Linked DNA regions of Homo sapiens: region 2 is linked to region 1. A link means that fine-mapping ties the variant in region 1 to the expression of a gene that starts in the linked region. Tissue or cell type: cerebellar hemisphere. Region 1 holds a variant in brackets; the other region holds the start of a gene. All regions are shown on one strand. Distances are between the middles of the regions.

What was found. PIP is the estimated chance that this variant, and not a neighbour inherited with it, causes the effect.
Region 2: it holds the start of TUNAR, and the variant in region 1 is fine-mapped to the expression of TUNAR in cerebellar hemisphere (GTEx, PIP 0.90).

Annotation. Positions count from the first base shown.
Region 1 is chr14:95,800,505-95,803,004 of GRCh38, reverse strand. No RefSeq gene overlaps it. Among named protein-coding and RNA genes, the nearest start is that of TUNAR, 75 kb to the left of the region's middle. The variant T/G (reference allele first, on the strand shown) is at 1,013.
Region 2 is chr14:95,875,819-95,878,439 of GRCh38, reverse strand. TUNAR (transmembrane neural differentiation associated intracellular calcium regulator) reads right to left here and starts at 1,608. Exons shown (of 2, transcript NM_001416131.1): 1 at 1,263-1,608. The coding sequence starts at 1,274.

The sequences.
Region 1 (2,500 bases):
ATGCAGATCACAGTATTGTCTTTGTCTTTTTTCTGTTGCTATGGCTGAATACGCAAGGACGGGTAATTTATGAAGAAAAAAAATACTTCTTATAGTTCTGGAGGCTGGGAAGTCCAAGGTTGAGGGGCTGCATCTGGTGAGGGCTTTCTTATCATGTCATAACATCACAAAGGGCATCACATGGTAAGACAGCAAGAGCATGCCAGCTCAGGTCCCTCTTCCTCTTCTTATAAAGCTACCAGTTCCATCTTGGGGACCCCACCCTGATGACCTTATCTAATGGTAATTACCTCCCAAAGTTTCCACCTCCAAATGCCATCAACATATAAATTTGGGGATTAAATATCGAATACATAAAATTTGGGGATCGTATTTAAACCATAGCAAGTGTCCCAGAAATGCAATCTGTGTGGCTGCAGGGAGCGCACCAGATAGAGGACCACCCATTCTTTCCACCCAGCAGACTTTGGGGATTACTGCCCTGGTGCTCACCTATGTGACAAGGGCTCTCATGCTTCTGCTACGTTGGCTTCAGTGGCTGGCAATGCACCATCCCTGTGTTTCCCATCACAACGAAAGATAATATATGTAGAGCCCCTGGTACACAGTAGGTGGTCAATGAACGAAAACCGTTGTCATATTCCCCAGGCTTTCTATAGCTGAAGGTTAAAGTAAAATGCTTTTAGCTGAAGGGCACATGAAGTTTATTGACCATATTTTCTTGAAAGAGCCCTGGTTGAAAATAACTGTCCCCAGTACAACAGTTGTTATCAGAAAGGTCTCCCTTTGAATATGATAAACACACTGTCACACACATTCCCATCGGTCTCTGAGCCCACTGAGGCCCCCGCTTTAGGCAAAAGCATCACCATTTCATCTTGGGTGACTATTCTTGTGGTCTTTAAGAACCCAAGGAGGCGTAGATGGTATCCAAGCTCCTCTGCTTGGGTGAACAAGGCATGTTTATGCCAGAGGGGTGGGTGGAATGTGGTCAACAAGAACTGAGCAGATG[T/G]CCCATCTGGCCAGGCAATCTGTCCTTTCAAAAATTATTGCAGAGGTATGGTAGAGTGTAAAAATGAAACAGGGAAATTTAGATTCATGCTCAGCCTGGCCACTAGCTGTTTGCCTTTGGGCGTGTGACTACCTCTCTCTGAGCCTATTTCTTATGTGGAAGATGGGGTAATGGTACCATTTTTACTGGGCTATTGTGAGAAGGAGCTCAGATAACACACCTGAAAGGCCTAGTAGAGTGTTTGGGACACAGAAGCTGCTCAGCAGATACTAATTTCATTAGTTTATCTCTTCCCTTCTGTGCCTCCCTAATGTACCCACTCCCAAAGTAGACCCTCTTTGCGTGGACCCAACCTCTCCTAAGTTTACCACACCTTTAGGGTGGAAGGTTCCTTCCTCGTTGATATTCCCAACTGCCCCAAGTGACTTTTCCTTGTCTATATCTCACACATGGGCTCTAGGCTCATTGTGGCTTCCAGGACAACCACTGATTGGCCCATCCTCTCCTCTAGGAAACTTGTGGGGAAACAGTGGCTCCCACTTTCGTTATCTTCATCTAGCCCTGAAAAATGGGGCCACCCACTGGAGCAGTATCTGAAACAAAGCCCCAGCTTGCCTCCCTGGCCTAATCCTATCATTCATCCCTGTGCTGCTCCCAAACCCACTTCATGCTCTCCTGTCTCCACGACTTTGTTTCTATAATACTTTGGCCCACAAATGTGCACATGACATGCACACACACACACACACGCACACACACACACAGAAACACACACACATACACCTGTGAAAACTTCCACCTCCATTTCAAAGACTCTTCTGGACCCTGTGACCCTCAGCAAGTACCCCCTTGAAACTAAAATAAAAGTTGGAAAGAAAAAATAATAATTGCACTTGCTGAGGGTCACAGATTTTCTTCTAGGGTTCTTTATAGTTTCAGATTTTACATTTAAGTCTTTAATTCATCTTGAGTTGGTTTTTGTATATGGTGAATGGTAGGGATCCAATTTCAATCTGCATATGGCTAGCAAGTTATCCTAGCAGCATTTCTTGAATAGAGTCCTTTCCTCATTGCTTGTTTTTGTTAGCTTTGTCGAAGATTAGATGGGTGTAGGTGAGCAAGCACAATGTTTTCAAATCCCTTGAGCTCTTAGGTCATATCCCTTCTAGTCACCCCCCATGGGTCCAAATTTTTGAAAGACTTAAGGAAGAACTTATTTCCCCTCCAGCCAGATGAATGTCTTTATCCTTGTCACCTGTGTCAGTTTGCTAGAGCTGCTGTACAATCATCACCACATCAGTTTTAAAACATTTTCATCACTCAAAAGAAAACTTCATACCCATTAGCGCTCATGATTTTCCCCAACCTCCATTCCAACTTTAGGCAACCACTAATCTATTTTCTGTCCTTATAGATTTGCCTGTTCCAGATATTTCATAAGTGGAATCTTACGTGGTCTTTTGTGTTGACTGGTTTCTTTCACTTAGC
Region 2 (2,621 bases), 75 kb before region 1:
ACGTGTAGACAACTGAGCTCAACACTGTGACTTCACCAATGGAACAAGCCCCTCAGACCAGGATCAATTGATTCCAGGTGGCTTGCCCCTTCAGGAACTAAATGCACTTAAGCAAACAGTTAACTAAATGCACTTAAGCAAACAGTTAACTAAATGCACTTAAGCAAACAGCTAACAGCGGCAAGCCAGAGAACTGGGGGCATGCATCAGGCATCGTATCTGCATTAAAACTCCTTTTCTTTGGGGCTCAGAAGTGTTTGGGGCTCAGAAGTTCTGCTGACACTGAGGGCTGGCAAATATGAGCCAACACTGGGCCAGCCCCTGCACAGTGGCCATCTGGGATCAGCCCCCGCTCCGGTTAAGTAATCATCTCCAAGATTTACAAAACCAGGGGCAGGTAACCTTGATGAGCCCTGCCCCCAGGGAAAGGTTAAGGATGCAGTTCTGAGGCCTAGCATGTGCTGGGCACACAGGAGGAACCACTGTCCTTTCCATCCTTCAGGAGGACTGGGAAAACAGAACCCCAGGAAAGAGAACACCTAGGAAAACATATTATCCTCTCACCTGAACTAAAAAGTAGAGTACACATTAGGGGTTGGCAGCAGCGTGATGGCAGGATGGACAAAAAGTGCTTGCTACAGGCAATTTATTTCATCAGAACAGATACTCATTGGAGCAAGTATTTTCACACACACGCAATGACTCTCGAGACGGAAGCAGTTAGTAGAAGAAATGAGACAGGTGTGTTTGTTACAAAGGGAACAGTCTGGCAGGGAAGTAGGGTACCCTGGTTTCCAATCCTGGTCTCCCACTTCCTAACCTTGTGACCTTGATTAAGTCATTCAACCTCTCTAAGCCTCAGTTTCCTCATCTGGGCCAAGGAGAAACGGGGACCTATTTCCCAGAGCGGCTTTGAGGCACACTGCCCGGCACGGCCTGGACACCCACTAAATAAGAGTTGTTGCCCCCAAATGCTAAGTCTGAACCTAGCTGCATACACATGCCGTTATCTAGACCAGACAGGTCTCCCGCCTGCATGTCAAACCCACATCTTTCTCCAGAAGGCAGAAGAAAGCACCAGGTCTGCCCGGGCAGTTCAGCCTCCAGGCGGGGCTTCGGGGCAGGGGAAATTGAACGATTCAATCGGAAGCCCCGAATGTTTCCAGGCTGTAAGTGGGGAAGGAGGGTAGGACAGGGGCCCTGAGGCGGCCTCCGGGCCCTGCGAAGGGAGCTTTGTTCGCGAGGCGGAGGGCCTGGCTTACCGAGAAGCGCATCCGGAGGCGGTTGAGGGGCGCGCGGGGCACGCAGCAGAGCCGCAGCCCGGCCCGGACCCGGAGCGCCGGAGCCGCAGGAAGGCGAGGAGAAGGAAAAAAAGGAGGCTGCCGCCGGCTCCTGCCTCATTCTCCCGGGCAGCGTTGACCCGCTGGCCGCCGCCGGATAGGGCTGGCCGCCGGGCGCGGGACCCCGTGCGCGCTGCTCATGTCCCCGTCTGCCGCTGGCTAGGTGTGCGCGCAGCCTGCTGGTCTCTGGGCGGCACCCGGGGGCTCCTCATGCCCCGCGCCGGGGCTCGGCGGGAGGACCTCGGAGAGGCAGCGCGGAGGGAAAGAGAGAGAGACAGCATGAGAACGCGCAGAGCTGCACCCCGCGGGGGCCGGGCGCCAGCAGCACCGCGCTGCCCCACCCACGGCGCGTCTGCTCCCCGCGCTGCGCGCCCAGCGGGGCGCCGAGCCCCAGAAACTTTAGCACATGGCCGGTCCGGCGGCCACGGTGGCCGTAGCTGCCCTGCTCTTCGAGCGCCCCCCACTGCTTCCTGCCCCAAGCCCCAGAGCGCAGCTTACCAGCGGCGACCGCGACCGCAGCGGCGGGGCGCCCACCCGGCCGCAAGCACAGCAGTGCGCACCTGCGGGAAAGGAGGAAGGGGCTGGCGGCGTCGGGGTCCCTACAGGGGAGGGGCACCTCGGCGGCAGCAATCGGCGCAGGTTAAGGCATTCTGGGCCGGGGCTGCGCGCGAGCCAGGTGGTGGCAGGCCGGGATTGGGGAGGGTCTCTGCGCCCCCCGCCCCGCGGCGCCGCTGCTGATGACGCGCGCGGGCTTCCCCGGCCCCGCGTCTGCGGAGCCAGCCCCGTTACCTAGCGACTCGCTCCGGGGAGCCCCCGCTGACGCGCGCTGCGAGCCGGGCTGCGGCAGCCGAGGGGCGGGGAGGGAGGGGAGGGGGAGCTCCAGTGCGGGGAGGGCCGGCGGCTGCGGGCCAAGCTCCTCCCTCCGCTTCCCTCTCCGCGTTGGGGAGGGGGCCCGGGAAAGACGTGGCCTCCGCCTGGCCCTGGAGGATGGGAGGCCTTCGCGGGGCGGGGGGGACGGAGGGAGGCACTGAGTGCCCCTGTCCCCGCAGTGGGGATGCAGCAGCAGGTGGCGGCTATGTGGCCTGTGGAGGCTCGGCACCCAGAGGCGCGCGGTGAGCCCGCCCCGGCGGGAGCGTGGCGAATGTGGCTTTGGGCGCGCGGGTGTGTGGGACACGCTCCCACCCACGTGGCGTACATGGGGACCTGGGGACGCGGGTGAAAGAGGCGCCTCCTCCTTCCTCTGGTCTCTCTCCCTCCTTCCTGGACATTTTGCTCCTGCGC